Homo sapiens: one gene and its partners. The protein of the gene in region 1 purifies or fractionates together with the protein of each later gene. This does not show direct contact. Each region holds a gene or a part of one and is shown on either strand. Other genes may lie near its edges.

What was found. The genes of interacting proteins can lie anywhere in the genome.
Region 2: the proteins of LARP7 (region 1) and YBX1 purify together in Homo sapiens (affinity purification with mass spectrometry; 5 studies listed by BioGRID and IntAct, with this or other methods). This does not show direct contact.
Region 3: the proteins of LARP7 (region 1) and SSB purify together in Homo sapiens (affinity purification with mass spectrometry; 4 studies listed by BioGRID and IntAct, with this or other methods). This does not show direct contact.

The regions. Positions count from the first base shown.
Region 1 is NC_000004.12:112,652,923-112,658,938, reverse strand, and holds the end of LARP7 (la-related protein 7), read right to left. Parts: intron 5,863-6,016; coding exon 5,703-5,862; intron 4,872-5,702; coding exon 4,780-4,871; intron 1,693-4,779; coding exon 1,612-1,692; 3' UTR 1,353-1,611; downstream 1-1,352. UniProt on the Homo sapiens protein: RNA-binding protein that specifically binds distinct small nuclear RNA (snRNAs) and regulates their processing and function.
Region 2 is NC_000001.11:42,691,364-42,699,464, reverse strand, and holds part of YBX1 (Y-box-binding protein 1), read right to left. Parts: intron 5,976-8,101; coding exon 5,942-5,975; intron 3,267-5,941; coding exon 3,177-3,266; intron 2,824-3,176; coding exon 2,521-2,823; intron 2,286-2,520; coding exon 2,203-2,285; intron 1-2,202. UniProt on the Homo sapiens protein: DNA- and RNA-binding protein involved in various processes, such as translational repression, RNA stabilization, mRNA splicing, DNA repair and transcription regulation.
Region 3 is NC_000002.12:169,793,795-169,801,917, reverse strand, and holds the start of SSB (lupus La protein), read right to left. Parts: upstream 3,048-8,123; 5' UTR 2,942-3,047; intron 2,617-2,941; exon of another isoform or gene 2,402-2,616; intron 967-2,401; 5' UTR 958-966; coding exon 892-957; intron 1-891. UniProt on the Homo sapiens protein: Binds to the 3' poly(U) terminus of nascent RNA polymerase III transcripts, protecting them from exonuclease digestion and facilitating their folding and maturation.

The DNA.
Region 1 (6,016 bases):
CCCAGCTACGCGGGAGGCTGAGGCAAGGAATTGCTTGAACCCAGGAGGTGGAGGTTGCAGTGAGCCAAGATCATGCCACTGCACTCCAGCCTGGAGGCTCTGTCTCAAAAAAAAAAAAGAAAAGAAAAGAAAGAAAGAAAGAATAAATAGGGGTTCTCCTCCCTTGCATTTTTTCTTCCTAGGACTTGTCACTTTCTAACAAACTGTGTAATTTACTTATTTTTGTTTACTGTCTGTATCTGCTGCTGGAATATAAACTCCATGAGTGAGGGATCTTTGTTTTGTTCAATGTTTCTCAAGTGTTACAATGTCCAAACACAGATATTCAATAAATATTTGTTGAATGATAGTTTTACAAACTGCTAACGGGAGGATTTCTGAAATTTTACTTGGTAACATCTCCATGTTGCCTTAAGACATTCCTCACTGACATCAATTGAATTCTTGAAACCTTGATTTACTCCTGATATTTTGGATCTACTGGAGCATCTTTAGTTATAATCCTCATAATAGGACTTAGCAACTATTTATACATCTTCCTTCTCCTCCATGAAAATGCATATGCTAGCTTTCCTTCATGGAAAGAGAAAAACTTCATGGAGCGGGTGAGTGGGAACTTGCCATGGCACTAACTTTGTAGCAATTAGCTGTCACTCCAACCAGTGAGATGGCCAATCTCCTCAAATATTTGGCTTATAGAAGTGAACAGATCCTGATTGTAGCCTCTCCACAATCCATGGAAGGGGGTGGCCAAATAAGACCCTCAATTTTGGATAAAGCTGACAGATTCAGGATTTGGTTTGTAGCCCAATGAAATTAACTCCATGGCTGTCCAGAGTACTTCCTTGAGATTTTGATAAGAGATTAAGATGACAGTCCTGTATGGACCCAGTTAAGTTCAATTCTGGGAAGGCTTTAAATGCTTCACTCCCATGATTTTCCTGAATAAAATAACAGAGCTCAGTTCTGCCTAAGGTTGATTCCTCTATTTTTTCCTTCTTGTGCTAATAGCACCTAATACATTTTATTTTGTCTAACCAAAACAAAACATTTAACTTGATTTATGAAGAAACTCAATTCTTTTAAAAATTTAACATTTTAATTAGAACCAATCCCTATGGTCTATTGTTCAATGGAAGCTCAGATAGGCAAAGTGGAATGAATAGAATGAACTATTAAACATGTCTGTATAAATCAACATGAAAAGGTATTGAAGGTATTGCAAGTTACAAACTAAGTACAGTGAGAGTTTAGTGTTAAACATTTCTCTAAACTTTATATATATTCATGTAGTATTTTTGCAATTATGTTTTGTTTTTACAGTATAAAAACAAAATCAACACATTTCCAAATAATGTTCAAAACACATTTATTTACTAAATCACCTGACACTGACATCTAAGATAATTTCAACAAATAAAATGTTTAAGAAAAATTGTGGTATACATCATATTTGTCTCTAGAAAAAAGTCTTATTTACAAGTTGAGGAACAAAGATATTTCTTTTAATTAAAAACACATTAATTATGCAGTGCTACCATAATAAAAGTGAATCTCCCAAGAACAGCTCAAGTATCTTGTGAAGTATTAAGAGGTGAACTGTTTTTTTTTTCAATCATATTCAGAAAATCTTATATGTTTACTCGCTTGTTGAGTCTTTGCCAGTCTAATCTTTTCAGCTTTGGTGATTAACTAAAGAGAAATAAATCAAAAATTAAAATGTATTGGATACTCAAAACACACACACACACACACACACACACACACAAAACTATGACTAGAAAAAATTTCACAGCTATCAGCTTAAATGGAAATTTTTTAAAAACAGCGAGAAGATGACAAATGAGATAATTATGCTCAGGTCAAATCAATTACAAATCAAATCTGTTATTAAGGCTATTTACTATTTCCTATTTCTTACACCCTTACATAAATTGTTGAATATTTTTAAGGAAGGCAAATGAAATTACACAGAATAAAAAAGAAAACTGTTTAAAATGTCTAAAATATTCCAAAAGCTTCCTTGAGAAAAAAAAGTTAAAATATTAAACTTTGGAGTAAATGCAAATCTTTTTCTCTAAAAAATATAGATTCTAATGAGTATTCATTTAAATAGTTTTAAAGTGTTTGGTACCATATGGCAATTGGAAGGAATTCACTTTTAGATTAAACTAAAAGCCTATTATTCATCATTGAGGTGAATTAAAATCCAAAGATGTTTAGAACTCTATCATACCCATGCTGCTGTTCACAAATTTTATAAATTCTGCCTTTACCTGCTGAGTATCAGTAATTTTTACAGAAAAGAATTCAAATGTTTTAAAAGCCAAAGAGAAATAAGCTTCATTCTGTCTCTAGTAGCTGTTATCTATTTTTACCAATGTGTTCAAAATCATAGGGCATACTACAAAGATTTAGGCTAGCAAAATGAATAGGAGACATCCCTTTTGGCAGACCTTTCCTTCATCTTCTTGATCTTTTGTGATACATCACTAATTTAATTTACTTGTGTTTAATATATTATTTTAGTTTCGTTTTTTTGAGACAGAGTCTTGCTCTGTTGCCCAGGCTGTGGTGCAGTGGCGCCATCTTGGCTCACTGCAACCTCCACTTCCTAGGTTCAGGCAATTCTCTTGCCTCAGCCTCCCCAGTAGCTGGGATTACATGTGCGTGCCAGCTGGCTAATTTTTGTATTTTTAGTAGACAGGGTTTCAATATGTTGGCCGGGCTGGTCTCCAACTCCTGACCTCAAGTGATCCACCAGCCTCAGCCTCCTAAAGTGCTGGGATTATAGGCATGAGCCACCGTGCCTGGCCCCATAATGTGAATATTAAGAGCCAGAATTTTTTTACTTTTACTCAATTATGGGCCAAATACAACACTATTGTAGAAATATTGGGCTGTCAGGTCAGTAAGGTATTTATGTAACCTTTTGGCAGATTCACTGATGTTCTACTAGTTTTTTTTCTAAGCAATTTCCATTACTTACTAAGATGCTCCTAGTACTCCAACTACACTGGTCTTCTAGTCCCTGACAGTCTTCCCTTCCGGTCTCTGCATTTTCTTTGCTTCTGCCTGAAAAGCTATACTTCTAAACTTTACTGGGGCTTACTCGCTCACTTCCTTATGGGTCTTGGCTGTAACATAACCTTTGCAGAGAGTTTTCCAGACAACCTCAGCTGTTACAATGCTCTCCTGCAATACACTTTATTTTTCTGTCTAGCACTGGTCATCACCTAAACTATATTGTTTATCTGTTAGCTTCATGAAAGTAGGGGACTTTGTGATTCATGGCTTTACCCCAGGTTCCAAGAATGGTGCCTAACACAAGGCACTCAAAAATCATTAGCTGAATTAACTAGCAAACAAGTTGGCTAAACTAATTATGGTCTACTCCTTTTTTCCAACAAGCTTTGCACAGCACTTACTTTCTGTGTTAACCTCCGTTTCATTTCACGACAAGAGTCAACTGGCTACTTCCATAGCTACTTAACAAATTGCGTTAACGACAATCCTGACGTCATAACTGAGTTGTGTTCCAACTCAATTTAAGAACTTCCTAGTCAAAGATGAGCTCTAAATTTTTAAAATGAAAAATAAAAGGTTTATTCCTAGTTTTAAAAATATATAAAATCTAAATGAAATTTCACACCAATTAGAAGGGTATTATTTAACAAAGTGACTTCACTTCAGTTACCAGTTCTGGATTAGTGATTTTAACATTTGAATAATCTCAAACTGGCTTTGAAATTAACACCTCATATCCCTGAAAGAATCCTTGGGAAGCACAGGAGGCTTCCCCACCACAGCAAGTTCAGTCTCCTTTCAAGGAAACAAAATTCACACCTCCCCACAAATCACGATAAATTCTGGGCAATGGTAGAAGAAGGTTGATGAAAAACACTTGCTTTTTAAGTTAGTTTTTTTTTTTTTTTGTATAAATATGACCCCAAATCAACAAGCTTAGATTACAGGAAATAGGACTTTTAACTTGCTCACCTAACAAAAAAGGAAGTTCATCTTTTTCATTTTTCTTACACTTTTATAATATGCATTTCTAAATTTTGATGACTGTAGTTAATATTAGGTATTATGTACCCTACTTTGTTCCAGGCACTTTTAAAATGTACTAACCTTTACATGTATAATAATTTGTTTTAAAACTTTAAGAGACAGGGTCTTGCTATGTTGCCTAAGCTGGAAAGCAGTGGCTATTCCCAGGTGTGATTCCACTACTGATCAGACCAGTATCATTTTAAGTGACAGAAAAATAAAATTACTGAAAGAGGGGCTTGCTTTAAATTATTTAAGCTTGTTTGTATTACCTACTATCTTAGAGAAAGAGGAATAAAGCTTATCGTTGCTATAGGAAACACTATGCATAAAGTCTCTCCATCTTATCTATGGAGCCTCCTATCTTTATAAACTACATTCTGAATACATTGTGTTTTTACCATGAAGATAATCTTTCTATAATCATTTATCACCAAACTACAAGACATAGCAGCCAGATATCAAGACTGTTAAAGTATATCACTGGTTAAAAAGAAAAAATCTAAATTAAAATTATGTATCCTTGTGAGAAAAATAATTCAATTTCATACATTTTGAAATCTAGAGAAATGACTTTTCCCTCCCAACCTAAAACATAGTATATACTCAGTAAATTTTTGTTAGGTAATAGCAAAACTACGATCATTTTATGACTACCTAGTACTGACTTTGGCATTAAACGTTCAAGGAAAGTTTAGTCTAAAAAAACAAAAATGAATCAATTACCTTTTCAGTGCCTCTTTTCTTTTCCCGAGGCTGATTAAGTTTTGCCTGTCTATCAACCAAAATCTTCTGCCAATACCTTTGTTCGTGATCACCTTAAAAACAAACAAAGACTCTGATGGATGAAAAGAAGAACATATCTGAAAAACCATATTCAAGGCATTACATTCTCAATAATAGTAACTAGGACAGTTTTTGATTATATTTAATGCTACTTTACACATATTACAGAATAGAAAAAAAATAGTTAGTTTTGCCAGGTGCGGTGGCTCAAACCTCTAATCCCAGCACTTTGGGAGGGCGAGGAGGGAGGATCACCAGAGGTCAGCCTGGCCAACAAGGCAAAGCCCCTTCTCTACTAAAAATATAAAAATTGCCTGGTGCAGTGGCTCATGTCTGTAATCCCAGCACTTTGGGGGGCCAAGGCAGGCAGATCACCTGAGGTCCGGGGTTCGAGACAAGACCAGCCTGACCAACATGGAGAAACCCCGTCTCTATTAAAAATGCAAAATAGCGGGGCATGGTGGCACATGCCTGTAATCCCAGCTAACCTGGGAGGCTGAGGCAGGAGAATCACTTCAACCCGGGAGGCAGAGGTTGCAGTGAGCCGAGATCGCACCACAGCACTCCAGCCTGGGCAACAAGAGCGAAACTCTGTCTCAAAAAATAAAATAAAAATATAAAAATTAGCCGGGCGTGGTAACACACGCCTGTAATCCCAGCTACTCTGGAGGCTGAGGCAGGAGAATTGCTTGAAACTGGGAGGTGGAGGATGCGGTGAGCTGAGATCACACCACTGTACTCCAGCCTGAGCGACAGAGCAAGACCAAAAAAAAAAAACTAGTTTCATTAGCCAAACTCAGAAAATATATTACTCACAATAAGGATGATAACAAAAAAAAAAGGAAACGTCTATGAAGTTTTACCAGAAAGGATCTCGAGTTTCCAGCAGTGTTTCTTGTTAATTTCTGTATAGGCATTTATTACTGCTTGAGCATCCTCAGGAGTTTTAAATCTAGCATGGCATTCTGTATCCCCTTCTAGCAAATCAACATAAAGAACTTCTGAGATTGCTGCCAAAGTATCCTGCATTAGAGTTAAGTAGAAAGACAAATAAAATTTAAAAAGTTTCACAATAATTCTAAAACTATTCCAATGGTTATGCCAGAATATATTATGTAAATAAAGCATTTTGCAGTCTAATGAGGAGCAAATATCCTGTATCAAATATTTCCTGTAA
Region 2 (8,101 bases), on another chromosome or scaffold:
CTCTCTGCCCAACCTGAGCCTGATGCCCAAATGGCTAGAAACACAGAGTCAAGCTGGGTGAACTCACTTCTAATTTATGATCGTTATCCTATTACTTATAAATTTACCATCTCTATTTTCTGTTCTAGAGGGTTCTTTGCCCCAAACTTTTCAAACTTCCTCTTTACTTTCGTCTCAATTTAGCAACCAAAGGCTTCCATGTCTTCCCATTAACACATGCGTGCCCATGTATTCTTGTTTCTTACACAGGAAAACGGCAGGTTCCTAACAAAAGGTCAACATTTTCACCTGTGGGCAAAACCCTACCCTCTCTGAGAAAGAAAACAGTTCCAGCAGTCACTTTCCTGCCATCAACTGTTATCCTGGATTGCATTTCAGCCTATAAATGTTATTTCTCAACAAAAAACCTCCCTTTTTGACCCCCCATTTTCCCCTTACTACTATTAGTCTCATTTTCAGCAACACTTGTACTATACTCTGTCTTAAGATTTCCCTTTCAGTTTGCTCTTGAACCCACACCAGTCAGAATTTCACACCATTCCATGCATTAGGGGCAGCATGTTTCATTTACTCTCATTTGAACAAAAGATTCCTGCACAGTTTGGAAAGTCTAGCATTCATTGATAACTTCCAAGCAATTTTATGTTACTTCTGCAACTATCTGGCAGGACTGAGCATTCTAAACATTGAAACACGTAGACATTAAGTCTAACTTAAACCAAAAGGCAAAAACCTCTGCACTGGAGGGGTAACAATGGACAAAGATACCTTTCTAAGAGACAAATCAACCGCAAGCTTGTTTGTCAATATAAAGACAAACAATTTACTCAACGGTGAACTGAAGCACTGAATACAAACACAAAATTATGCTATTTTTAAGGACATCAATGAAACTAGGCAAAACATTTAAGCTCTTCAGTGTAACAAAAGGTAAACCAAAGATTCTGCTGCTGGAACCCATGGACTTAACAGATGGACTGCCATGAGAGGCTATTTTAGACCTACTCTGAAAAATAAAAACCCATCTATCTTCAACATCCAGCATCTGGCTAACACAATCTCCTGGTAGAAAACTGAATCAGAGATCTTCAATTGTGGTAGTGATCAGTTAGGACCTCAGCTCTTTTAACTGAAAACTCAGGACAAGACATATTAATACAAAAAATATGATGACATCAGCTGCTCTTGCAAAACTCTCAATGTACATGTGCTGATAAATACATGTAATACAACCTCGACTAGATTCCCTAGTTCCTAAAACTTCACTAAGTGCTCCAACTTTGGTAAAATTTAAAAACCTATATACAGAAACCCCCTCTTATAGACTCACAGTATATTTTGGATATGTTGGATACTTCTAGAATAATAAACTTGACACTTAAAAATTTGGGGATTTAAAAGTTGCGATTTAAGTGATCAGTTAAGATGCGTTATTACTGTATTGGTTTGATTCTTCAGAGGTACCTGTCAGCTTTTGGGGATCACCTATGAAAACTCAATGCTTTGATATCAAACCCTTAGAGAAACAACTATTACACCATCCTATCCTACCACCGTGGGACTGGGAACACTGCCTCAAAGTATACTACGGCATGGACTAAAATATGCTTGGTTCATGGAATTTTTCCTCGATTACTCTAATAATGACATCTATTAATAAGATTTCTAATACCCACTCAAGTAGATAGTTGTCTAACGACAGACTGGATTTCCCCCCGCAGAATGTAAATTCTTGGTGGAGCAATTTCATTTTGCAACTTTGAGCTGACAACTCCCAACTCCAAAAAAAAGGGGGTACATATCTAAACTGAGAAGTGTTTAGTGGAAGATAATGTATGCCATTTCAAGTGATAACACTGTTGATTCTTCACTAATGCCATGGTACAATTCAGATACTCCTAATGCTTTCCTTTCTCCCTACCAAGGAGGCAGGTTTAAAAGGTGTGGTTTAAAATATTATCTTACCTGTTCAAGGACAGAAAATTTGAAATTCCAAACCCTCATCATTTTCTAAAAAAATTTATGTATAAAGCAGACCTCATCTATACAAGCTGTTTTTAATAGGTTCACCTCTTAGGCATCTGATGAAAGAAAACGTGAAGTGTTAACAGAAAAATGAGTCTGCAGGAGAGGCATGATATTGCTGAGTCCTAACACGGGTTTGAGGAAATTTTAATAGAAACATGTTTACGTGGACCATACCTGCGGAATCGTGGTCTATATCCCCGATACATATTCTGCCTCACTGGTCTACCTTGTTCTCCTGCACCCTGGTTGTCAGCACCCTGAAAAAGACAATGGAAATTAAGCCTACTGGGTCAGTAATATAATAAAAAAACCCAACCAGATAAATCCAAGAGTTAAAAAACAAACAAAACAGACCATCTAGTAATTGTGACTACATTATAAATTAATCCTTTTGGTTCTTACTAGGAATCCAAGTTGCTTTCCATATAATTAACAGCTCTAAACAGTCCTACCAGAACTTATCACATTGCTGTTGTTGATGGTGAAACTTACCTCCATCACTTCTCCCTGCACAGGAGGGTTGGAATACTGTGGTCGACGCCCATAGGGTCTCCGCATGTAGTAAGGTGGGAACCTTCGCCTGCGGTAGGGCCGGCGTTGTTGGGCCTGGCCTTCGGGAGCACTCTCCGATCCCTCGTTCTTTTCCCCACTCTCACTATTCTGGTAATTTTGCTGGTAATTGCGTGGAGGACCCCTACGACGTGGATAGCGTCTATAATGGTTACGGTCTGCTGCATATTTACTGCCTTGAACTGGAACACCACCAGGACCTGTAACATTTGCTGCCTCCGCACCCTACAAAAGCCATTACATATTGATAGTGACAAAGGAAATCAGAACACTTTCAACACTTTCAAAAGGAAATCAGAACATTTTCAAACAAAGCAAAAAACAACAAAGTTAAGGAAAAAAAAGGGGGGGGGGGCGCAACTGCGTGACCAGGGGTGCACAGAAATGACTAAATATCAGTTCCTCACTGTTCTGAAGAGATTGCCCTCTAACTGCAGCCAGAACATTAGGCTTGATGCACCTGTGTTCATGAGGTCACCTGAACACATCCATCCACATTAGAGCCACCATCCTAATGGATGAGACCTCCAAAATATTTCCATACTGAAGTCAAACCTTTACACAAAAAGCATCCTCACCTTTTCTCCTTCAACAACATCAAACTCCACAGTCTCTCCATCTCCTACACTGCGAAGGTACTTCCTGGGGTTATTCTTCTTTATGGCAGTCTAGTAATATCACATTCCAAAAATAGATTAACAGGGGAGAATAATGTGCTTTTTCATTTAAAATGTACCAGAGTCAATATTATTTTAGCTTGGATATACACTTAAGATTTGCTTTAAATAAGACCAAACCATCAATAAATTTAGGAAAGCGGGGACCACACTATCCCCAACTTCAACAAAAACACTCCAATCATACAAGGCCCCAGCATTGTACCACTATTTACAAAACTAAAACAAGTAATTTAACACTCAAGACAGACACATCATTTTAAAAACTGCTTTTTGCAAAAGCATTATATATAACTTTTAACAAATGAGGATATCCATCTATCCCCTGAGGACTGCACTTAATAGGAGAAGGTGGCCCCACACTGCGTCAGTTTAGATGACAGGCGAGTTTGGTTTTGCATGCTTCAAAGCTGACCAAACCAACTTTGCCCCTGTGTTACCGTATCAAACTCAATTACAAATGTCAACCAAAATCCCTTCCAATCTGATAATACATCAGTGGAAATGCAATTCATGTGTATTAACTATGTCATTCTTTATATGATCTGACTGCATGGAATTGTTAGTTATCACCTCCCCAGAATTCAATAAATCTTGTATTAGAGACTTGTTGCTTCTACTTTCTCCAGACTGTTAAGAGAAGGGAGGAAGAGTAACATCTCACGTTTCTATGAAATTTTTTTGCAACATTCTTTCACTTACTATCTATTCAATCTCATTATGAGACAGGACATGTGAAAGTATTGTTAATCCCATTACACAGATAATGTAACAGGCTTTAAAGTTAGGTGACTTGCCCAAGGTCACACAGTTAGTAAGGAGACTTTCTAAACCCAGGTATTGGGTCTCCAAATCCCATGTTCACTCCAAATCTCAGCTATATCCATTACAGGATCACTCATGCATTTCCATTGCAGAGGAGACAGGACAATCAACGAATCTGAGGCCAATTAAGTGAAGCTGCCCAGAACTGCAGTCTCCCTGATACACCACTAAGACCTGAGCAGCCAAAGTCCCAAGAAACAACTACATGTTGAAACCACTTCCAAAAAAATGAAAGCATATTGGTGGCACCTTGTGAATCAGTACAACTGGGTGAGTTGAGTCAAATAATTGATCTCATCTGTCATCTAAACTGTCACATAGTTTTCATACCTTTCAGATATAGCCAACTATCAATTACCTGCAGTCATAGGGGATAGCAGAATTATGGATAATTAAAATCCCAACTCTTTATTTTTATCAACATCTCCACCCCTGCCCCAACCCCAACCCTTAAGGGTTGCCAACAGGCAACAAGACCGAGAAACTTTGCTGTCTCTTGTTCCTAAGTCTACACATTCTTTTGAACATGCAGAAGGGGAGTAAGGAACAGTTGAGCTGTGTTCTTCCAAACAAGAATACCAATTTTATAAAACATCTACTTTAAAACAACATTTTGTCTGAAGTAGTCCTGTATTTATTTACATTTAGAATTTAAATGATTCCATAATTACATTTGACCCTGAACTACCTGATTGGGTTTGGGTGTACTAGAAATTGATATAGCTTCCTCCTTGTCATCAAATACTGTGTAGGACACTTCAGTGAGCTACAAAGCACCAACCTATGACAGCCCTTCCTATGAAACATGCTGCCATAAAAGCTAGTATCTAATTAAATGTGAGTATGGATATTAACTTTTAGGTCTTTTGATTTCTGGATTATAGTACAAAAAAGTAGTTATGGTCTCTAATTTTAATACAAGTTGACAATATTTCAAAAGCCTTAGTGAGAAAACTGATAGCACAAACATATTTTTTCCTACTCATTTCGTATCTGTGAGGATAAGTACATTCAATGTAGCCTACAGCATATCTAAATTTGAAGTATTAACATACACTTGGCAGTGGTTTACATTAGTAATAATCTTAATTCCTGAATGTGCAAACATTTTCCCTAAATGATACTTAGGGAGAAAGTTCACTATGCAGTACTCATCAGTACTCATCCTATGTTAACAGTTTTCTCTTCCCAAATCACTGGAAGCCAATCTAAAAATTATTTAATGAGCAGCTGCCAACCTTGTCACACTTCCCCCCACTTAACCTTAAACTAGTGAAATTTTTTCATTTTCCAAGCCAGCCAAAACTCTCCAAAGGTTTAAAAAAAAAAAAAACCCAATACCCATTCAAAGTGATTTAAAGTAAGCAGAAGGCTCTTTATGCTACTTTTCAAGTACTCACTTCAATTACTATGTTTTGCAGGTCTGTCTTATTTACCCTTGATTATGGAGATTTGTCCCTACAGGTACACCTAAAAGCCTTTGAAAACTTCTTGCCAAAGTTTCTGTGTATTTATAGCAACATTATTTGTTCAACTTTAGAATCATGGAATAATCTGTTCATCTGAAATTAGGTATAAATATTTAATGCAGTGAGTTTGACTCAACATTTGAGAAAGCCACAGCTGTTGACAAAATTCCAATTTGAAATGTCTAGGATAATTAAGTCAACTCTAACACATTTCCACGTATACATTTTTAAGCATGCTACTACTCCTGTCGTAAGTAAATAAACTGGTGGTTGGACTTAACCTTTTATAAGGAACAAAAGCTGAGAACATATCTAACCTTTTCTTCTTACAATCCTTGAATCAGAAGTGCAAATATCTACACAAGCACTCACCTGGTGTACAAATACATCTTCCTTGGTGTCATTCCTGCAAGACAGAACCAAGTTGAACAAGTTAGAAAATGAAATAAATCTCATGTTGTCAAAGATTAATTTTCCCAGAGACTCTCTGGCTGCCAATTAGGTACCAGGAAATTTGGCAAAAATCAAAAAACACAAGCCACCATGCTCTCTGCTTTCAAGACTTCAGCAGTTGCAAACAGTTGTAGCCTCATTACCCGTAAGATAGGCAAAAAAAAAAAAAAGTCTAAGAAATTAAAGTGTGACCTACTGAGCCATAATTAAGAGGGTAGCAATGACTAGCAAAATATATTCTGCCCCTCCTTATCCTATTAAACATTAACTGTTCTAGCACACCCTCCTCTTACCTCTAGAGCATGGTTACCAACAGAAGTAGTAGTTACATTCTCACCTTATCCTGCATCTCCCAACTACCAACTTTCCTTGAGATCATAAAAATGAGAACCCCCCTCCCCACCAACAGAATGTATAACGCAAAGAGTGAAACCTAATGGGAACTGTGACCTTTGGGTGATAAGGTATGTTTGAATGTAAGAAAAGCCCAGTTATAAAAGCTACTCCACAAGTCCAGACAAGGACTGATGAAGGTTTAGACCACGGAGCCATGTATAAAAAGACATTTGAGATCTCTTTTTGAGGCAAAATGAGAAACTTTGTGGATGACTGGATGTCAGAAGCGAGGGGGTAGAGAATAATCTCACTTTTTAGCCTGGATATTGGGATTAAGGTGATAACACGAGGAGCAAGAATCACCACTGGAGAAGGAAACGGATTTCCAGGCCTGCAGTGGCCTGCCTCACCCTCTTTACTCCGTCAGGTCAGAGTGAGAAAAAGCTCAGTAGTAGCTCTAGCGTTTAATGACAAAGGGAACAAAGGTTACAATGAACTGGACAAACTGGCTTACTGACTGTTAGCTTCTTGCTGAACTGGGGGCAACATATGCATCAAAGGATCCACATAAAATTAACTTTAAATCTGACCTGTAAATTATAGCTTGGATTATTATAAGAACATTTTTAATTGATGGGAACAGGATAATTAAAAAAACAGAACAGGTAAACTGTAAAAGCGACTTAAGGCAAGTGACTGAAAACTGACCTTTCAAGCTAGATGATTAGGATTGCCTAGGGAAATGATGGCTGTACCTAATGTCCATCTGTCCATAACTCCATAGGCACCACAAAAACAGATTACAGCCATCATTTATTAGTTCTGCTCTCCAATATGACTGAATTTCAAACTCTAAGGCTCTAAGGGGAAATACAATAAAAAACTGGTAGAGTAAGAAAGGCAAATACAGGCAAAGTCTAGAATAGTGATTTTCAACAGGGGCAATACTTCCCCTGGCAGGGTATTTAAAGTTTTTCCAGTCCGGGTGCAGTGGCTCACGCCTGCAATCCCAGCACTTTGGGAGGCCAAGAGTTCAAGATCAGCCTGGCCAACATCGTGAAACCTCGTCTCTACTAAAATTACAAAAAATTAGCCAGGCGTGGCTGTGTGTGCCTATAGTCCCAGCTACTCTGGGGGGTGAGGCAGGAGAATTGCTTGAAGCTAGGAGGCGGAGGTTACAGTGAGCTGCTGCACTCCAGCCTGGGCAACAGAGTGAGATTCCATCTCAAAAAAAATAAAAAAATAAAATTTTTTTCCAAAGATAGGGAGCACTATCTGCATTAATGGAAGTGGTGGGTGTTAGTTGCTAGAAGACTATGTAAAGATTTGGTATAGAAAGTAAATTTGTTTATTGTTATCTGAGTCATGTATGTATTTCTGTACTGTTTTAATACGCATTAAATTCACTAAAAATGCAGCTTCTGTGGAGAATTTTTCATTACTGATAATGCTACTCATGGTATCTGGGTAATACATCATTTCTTTATCAATCCATTTTGTGGTGGCTCTGACTGTTTGTTATGCCTTCTAATGTAGTTACAACAGGTATTCACATATCAATATCATCATACCCGGCAATAAAAATAATTAAAAGTAGTTACGTGGCGAGACCCTATATCTATAAAAAATAAAAAATTAGCCGGGCCTCCATTCAAGTCCCGGAAATGAGGGTGCAGTGAGCTATAATCATGCCACTGTACTCCATCCTGCGCAACAGAGCAAGACCCTGTCTCTGCACAGAGA
Region 3 (8,123 bases), on another chromosome or scaffold:
GGTATTACGTTAACATAAACATAATACCTAAATTTGAAAAAATGCTAAGAGGGTTTTGAAAACAGATACTATATTAAAGTTACTGGCTGGGCACAGTGGCTCACACCTGTAATCCCAGCACTTTGGGAGGCTGAGGTGGGCAGATCACCTGAGGTCTGGAGTTCGAGACCAGCCTGGCCAACATGGTGAAACCCTGTCGCTACTAAAAATACAAAAATTAGCCAGGTGTGGTGGCGTGCTCCTGTAGTCCCAGCTATTTGGGAGGCTGAGGCAGGAGAATCATTTGAACCCAGGAGGCAGAGGCTGCAGTGAGCCAATACTGTTGTAGTGAGCCAGGATAGTGCCACTGCACTCCAGCGTGGCCAACAGAGTGAGACTCCATCTCAAAAAAAAAAAAAAAAAAAAAAACTATATTAAAGTTACAATAGCTGAGAACTGACTGGGCAGAAAAAAACTAAGATCATCAAAAATATAGTGTTATTTAACAGGGAAGGTACTTTACCAAGGACTTTTATGTTACTTATGTGTCAGGAATTCTTCTAAGTACTTAACATTATATTCACTAATCCTCCAAACTACCTTATGAGGAGGGAACTACTATTATTCTCATTTTATATGAGACTATGAAGCTAAAATTTTATATGAGACTATGAAACTAAAATTTTAAAAAGATTAAGTAACTCTAGTTTATAGTGTTACCTTTTGAAATGTTTGTACATCTTAAGTTTCACAACCTGGCTCCACCAATATAAAACTGTATGCTATTATATGTTCATCTAAGAATCAAAGGCAAACCAAATGTTGAATATGTCCATGTACTAGAATTAAATGTTCTTTCTGTATTTTCTTTCAAGGAACTTGTTTTTGCAGTTTATAGCACAGGAATCATACCTCAATTTGATGACAGATTTTGGCCTCCAGGGCAGCCATCTTTTCATTATCACCATTTTCAGCCATTGCGGCTATCTGTAAAATTTCCCAAATTAGCATAAAGTTATTTTTTATATAAAACTCAAGAATAGAAAGATAATGTTTACAAAGTATTAATATCCCGTTTTCTTAAAAAATCAAGAATTTCTATTTTCACGGGTTCAGTTTCTTTACTCAGTTCTCAAATATCTCAACAAAGCAACACTTTGGAATAAGTGATGAAAAAATCTAAAAACTATAAAAAACTTGTCTTTCAGTAAATCACTACCCCATCTTCTATAACAAGAAACTGTTTATCTTCACTTAGCTGGTCAAGCAAGCTTTAGGGAAAAAAACTCCAATCACTTACCAACCATTTCCAGTTTTAAACAGATAACTATCTATCTGTATATTACCATGGCTCTCTGTGCATTTGTTTGGTATGGGTTCACCTCTTTTTTTTTTTTTTTTTTTGAGACGGAGTCTCGCTTTTGTTGCCCAGGCTGGAGTGCAATGGTGCGATCTCGGCTCACTGCAACCTCTGCCTCCCAGGTTCCAGCGATTCCGCCTTCGCCTCCTGAGTAGCTGGGATTACAGGCGCCCACCACCACGGCTGCGGCTGACTAATTTTTGTATTTTTAGTAGAGACGGGGTTTCACCATGTTGGTCAGACTGGTCTTGAACTCCTGACCTCTGGCGATCCACCCGCCTCGGCCTCCCAAAGTGCTGGGATTACAGGTGTGAGCCACCGCGCCCGGCCTCATTTCTTTTAAAATGTAGTCACAACTGACTTACCCAAACCTTGTTACCAAGTTAGACATCATAACTTTAAGGTGAAAAATGTTACAGTTCCTTAGATACTCTATGCTAAGGAACATACGAAAACAAAAATGGGAGAATGTGGTCATACTAACACAACATTAAACTGGGGAGTATGCCTACTAATTTACTAATACATTGGATAGCCAGTTTCCTGTTTCGTATTCCTGACATTAGCACTGCAATGAAAAAAGGAAGCTGTGCTATTAGTTTGCTAGAAATTACAAACCAAGTCTTCTACTTACAAAGTACTTGCCTCCAGGACTCTACTAAGCCACCCAGTCATCCCAACTGTACAAAAGTTATGTGAACAAATCATCGAGAATATTGCCATTAGTTGACTCTAGTTATGAACTGATGTAGGTACACTTCCTGGAAGCATCCCCTGACACACTGCAATTGCATTCGATACCATGGATACACATAGGAAGCACTTGCAACGGGGTACTGTGTGATCCACATCCCCCTAGAGAAATTACTCAATTTTATGCATTGTCTTGTCTATCACAATCTACACTCCTAAGTTACTACCGTGATCTAGGGCCCCCTACAAAGCAAACGATGAAATAAAATAACTATTTAGACCCTGCAAAACCTATTTGGCCTAATTTTGGAACTGCGTTTCATCAGATACTTTTCCAGAATGTACGACTGTAAATGAAATATTACCCACGTTTTCCCGTTTCACACTGAAACCTGATGTGAGCGATGAAGGCCCTAACAGACCAAAAGAGTGACGCTGGTGTACATCTGCGGCCCAAAGTTCTTTGGCCTCCAGTCAGTCCCATAGGCTCCACAGAACCCTCCGGCGTTTACCCCGTGCCCACCTCCCCAGAAACTTTACAGAGATGGCCACAAGCCTTCGGTGAGACTAGAAGGCGGTGGAGGTAAAAAAAAAAAAAAAAAAAAAAGACGCAATGGGGATGAGGGCAGCCACAGTCCCGTCTCTAAGCAACCGCGGAACTGCCTGGGCACCAGCCACGTGCGGGGAACCCCAGGATCCCGCATTCCTCGCGGGGGCAGCCTCGCCGCCGCCCGCGCCCCCTCGGCTCCGCCGCCTCCGGCTGCGGCCCACGCGGCGCTCGGCCTGAACGTGAGGAAGGCGAGGGGCGGACGGACGCCGCGAGAAGCAGTAAAGAACGGAAACGCGCAGTCGCGCACCAGCAAAGCGGACCCTTTTGTAGCTTCTCATTAGCCACCGAGAGTTACTCACCTTTAAGGTTCCGGCCCACAGAAGCCGCGCCACAGGCTCACAAACAGCAACAGCAACGACTCCACCTCCCAGCGCCGCCGGCCAGCCTAAAGCGCTCCAAGAAGATGGGGACCGTCCCGGCAGCTCTTGCGGCCTGGGTGGGCAGGGCCACGGACGAGGTGGAGCGGTCCCTGTGCTCTGAGCATGCGCGGCTGCCGGGGCCTCCCAGGGACCCTGGAGTCCCGCCCTCAATCCCAAACAGATTGGGTTAAAAAGTACTCCAGGTTGTAGGGGAATGGCTGCTAGTTTGTGTTAGTATAAACATTTATTTTTAAGTATTTCTGGACGGCGTCTGTACCCCAGCCCTTCCTTTGGCCCTCCATTCATGTGAAGTGCTTTGGGTTTTTTTTCAGATATTTTCCAAAAATGTGTGTGAATACACACACACATCGTGTTGTAGTAGTTCTCAAAAAAAAAAAAAGGACAAGTGAAATTTAAAAAAAAAATCAAAGATCCATGAAATCTTAGAGTTTTGAAAACAATACAGTACAGCGTGTAAAAACTGGGTGTCTGGAATCAGACTGCCTGCTTCAAATAATGGTCCTCCTGCTGTGAAACTGTGATCTTGGACAAGTTGTTCAACTTCTCTGTTCCTCAGGTATAAATAGGGCCGGTAATAAATACTACCTAGTTCATACAATTGCTGTGAGTATTCAACTTGATGCAATATTGTCAACCTAAAGGGAAAAACTGAGGCAAAATTAATATAAGTAGACAGTTTATTTGAGCCAAGTTTGAGGACTGCCACATGAGAGCATGGATTCAAATTGCCCTGAATATATGCTCTGATTAGCAGCACTTACAAGTAGCTTTTAAAGAAAAAAGAAGAGGCAGTTCCTAAATTGTTTACCGATAACTTACATTACAATAACAAGCTATTGATTGGCTATACATTCTTCTTTGTATCACAAATTCGAAGAACATGAAAATGGATGAAGCAGGTAGTAAGGGACAAAGTGACTTGAAACAATTGCCCCCCAAGCATGGCGACTGATATAGTTTGGTTCTGTGTCCCCACACAAATCTCATCTCGAATTGTAATCCCCATAATCCCCAAGTGTGGAGGGGAGGAACCACACACAGGGTGGGAGGTGACTGGATCATGGGGATGGTTTCCCCCATGCTGTTCTCCTGGTGGTTTTATAGGGCAGTTTTCCCTGCTCTTGCTCGCTCCCTCTCACCTGCCACTGTGTAAGACATGCCTCTTCCCCTTCCACCATGATTGTAAATTTCCTGAGGTCTCCCCAGACATGCGGAACTATGAGTCAATTAAACCTCTTTTCTTTATGAATTACCGAGTCTTGGGTATGTCTTTATTGCAGTATGAGAACTAACTAATACAGGGGTGTAGGGACATGACTGAAGTCCCAAACTCATATCTCTCTGTGCCTGATAAATTCCGCATACCTCACATAGTTCAAACTGCTCTGGGCTCTTTTTTCTTTTCTTAAGGCCAATGAGAAAAAACATATTTAACAGGGTTGTGCTCAGGTAGTTTAAATTCAAATTAATTAGATTATCTTTTATCCACTCAAAGAATATTTATCTACTCTCTATTTTATGCCAGACACAATTGAAACCTTAATTCTTGTTTTGATCAAGTCAGTGAGAATATATGTATTTAACAGAACAAATAATATCAGTGTCAGGGTACTCTCATTCATCCATTCAGCTAACTGTTTATTACATGCCTGTTAATGTCCTGGTATGGAGGCTTAACACTGGGAATAGAAAGAAGAGTCAGAATCTGCCTAGAGACAGAGCCACCTAAACAAATATAACTGCTTCTTCATGTCCCACAACATCTGGGCAGAACTGCAGTACAGCCTATTATCAGAAGTCACACCGGCAAAAAAAACATTTATTTCATGTTCTCATCAGGTCCCTGGTCCTTTGCTCTCCCTTTCTTGTCTTTTCTTTTTTATCTTTTTCTTTCTTCTTCTTTTTTTTTAGACAGTCTCCCTCTGTCGCCCAGGCTGGAGCGCAGTGGCACCACCTCGGCTCACTGCAACCTCTGCCTCCCAGGTTCAAGTGATTCTCCTGCCTCAGCCTCCTGAGTAGCTGGGATTACAGGCGCCCGCCACCATGCCTGGCTAATTTTTTTATTTTTAGTAGAGTCAGCGCTTCGCCATGTTGGCCAGGTTGGTCTCGAACTCCTGGCCTCAGGTGATCCACCCGCCTCAGCCTCCTAAAGTGCTGGGATTACAGGCATGAGCCACCATGTCCAACCCTTTTCTTATCTTTTCTTTTTCTCCCTCGTTCCCTTCCAGAAGCAGAGTTCCATGCAGACACACCCTCTGAGGAAAATGAATTCCTGGCGGCAGACCAGGAAGCTTCATGTTTCATTTACAGTACCTAGGAGAGGACTCTCTCTCATACTGGTATCCATCTCTCATAGCATAACTTTGTAAGTCAGTACACTAAAAGACCATCTTTCTGGGTATACACTTAGTACAATTACTTTGAGAACAAATTGATAATATCTATTAAAGTTTAAGATGTGCATAGCTGATGGTGCAGAAAGTCCACTCTAAAGAATATACTCCCAGCCTGGCCAACATGGTGAAACCCTGTTTCTACTAAAAATACAAAAATTAGCCAGGCATGGTGGTGCATGCCTGTAATCCCAGCTACTAGGGAGGCTGAAGCAGGAGAATTGCTTGAACCTGGGAGGTGGAGGTTGCAGAGAGTCAAGATCGCGCCATTGCACTCCAGCCTGGGCGACAAGAGTAAGACTCTGTCTCATTAAAAAAAAAAAGATTATACTCTAGAGCAATGTTCACATCTGTACACAAGAAAACATGTTCAAGCATATTCGGGCGGGGTGCAGTGGCTCATGCCTGTAATCCCAGCACTTTGGGAGGCTGAGGAGAGTAGATCACAAGGTCAAGAGTTTGAGACCAGCCTGGCCAACATGGTGAAACCCCGTCTCTACTAAAAATACGAAAATTAGCCAGGCATGGTGGCACGTGCCTGTAATCCCAGCTACTTGGGAGGCTGAGGCAGGAGACTTGCTTGAACCTGGGAGGCGGAGATTGCAGTGAGCCAAGATCATGCCACTGCACTCCAGCCTGGATGACAGAGCAAGACTCCGTCGCTAAAAAAAAAAAAAAAAAAAAAAGAATATTCATAGCAATATGGTTTGTAAATTTAGGGAACTGGAAATCAACTAAATGTTCACCACAAAAGAATGGGTAACTAAATTAAATTGTGATATAATTAAATAATGAAATTCTATACAGTGAGAAAAATAAACTAGATCTACATGAATTGACATTGATAAATTTCACAAACATAATGCTGAGTTTAAAAAGAGATTTCAGAAGAAATATAAGTAGCAACCCCCAGTCACTGTGACAATGAAAAATCCCACCTACATTTCGAAACAGCTTCTTAATTATGAGGCTGGTTACTGCTCCCAGCCTCATATTAAGAACATTTAGTCTAGGGTAATAGCATTGCTCTATTTTGAAGATTTGGTTTTGTTACTGAATTGGGCTTGTTCTGCCTGTTGCACAATATGCCCAATCACTGAGACATCAAATTTTGCTGCAGAGAAAGGGTTTATTCATGAAGCAGCCAAGTGAGGAGACAGGAGAACAGATCTCAAATCCAGCTCCCAAAGATGGGGTTTTAGGGTATTTACGGGATAAAGGAGCAAGGTGGTCTGAGGCATGGGGAAAGGTAATTGGGGTAAGAAACAGTGAGGCAACTGGTGCTGTGCACAAGCATAGTCAAGCTTCATAGCTCTTCATAGGACACATGTCCACAAAATTGCAGCTTTAGCATGATCTGAGGGTGGAGCTCTTGGTCCTGTGATGCCAAAAGGTCACCCATTGGACACTCATGCAGGCCCAGTTGAAGAGTTGTTGGTCTCAGCTGGCTTAAGCTGGACAAGAGCTAACTCTAAGTTCCTGAAAAACAAGCAACCATTACCATGGTGACCTATATCTCAGATATGTAATCTGTAAGGAAGCTAATGGAATTTTATGTATATATTGCTTAGCTACATGACTTTTAGCTATTAAATATGTAGCTTTTAAAATTAACTAAAAACAAATGAGACAAGTTAAGTTTGGTGGGCCAAATCAGGTTAGCCCTCAGTTTCAGGTTGAAATGCTTATTAGACATCAAGGTAAAGATGTCAAGTAGGCAGTTGGTATGAGTTTGAAGAAGTCAGGGTTAAAGATATAAATTTTGGAACTATTAGTATATAGCAGACATTTTAAGTCATGTCATTATATGAGCTCTCCTAAAAAGAGTATAGACAACAAAGATGGGAGGATCCCAGACTGACCCCTCTAGCATTCGAATTTTTTGGATAATGAATAAAAGAAGAGAAGCCTGTACAGCAGCTAGAATAAGCAGACCCTGAGAGGTGCTATGAAAATATGGCACCATAGAAGCTAAAGAGTGGAATGTTTCAAGGAAGGAGGGACCAACTGAGTACATATTGCTGAGAAGATGCTATGGATTGTGTATGGGTCATGAGGATGGATCCCTTATGAGTGGCTTGGTGCTGTTCTTGTAGTAGCCAGTAACTTTCCCTTCTGATTGGCTCTCAGAGGAATGGGTTAGTTCCCATGAGAATGGGTTGTTATGAAACAATGGGTTGTTATACCAGGGTGCCCCTCAGATTTGGTCTTTCTTCACACATGCCTGCTTCTCTTTGACCTTTTCCACCATGTTTGACTCAGCAGAAAAGCCCTTACTGGGAGCCAAGAAGATGCTGGTGGGTGTCATGCTTCTTGTACAGCCTGCGAAATTGTGAGCCAAATAAACCTCTTTTAAAAAAAATTATCCAGCCTCGGGTATTCATTTATAGCAACACAAAACAGACTAAGACAGAAGATTTGCAAGCTGACCTAAACCAATTTTGTCATTGTGGCAGATACTGTCACTTATCTCTTGGCTCTCTCCTTCCTATATAATAATAAAATCACCTGTGGCTTTCAACAAAATGTATGGCCAATCAGAAATAAAAACTACATTTTTCCAGCCTTCCTTGAAGCTTAGTAAGACAATGTCTGGCCTATGAGACATGAGTGGAAGTGATGTGTGCAACTTCCAGGTAATTCTTAAATGCAATGAATTTATTCTCTTACCTCACTTTCTCTTTTCTTCAACTAGCTAGATGTGGATG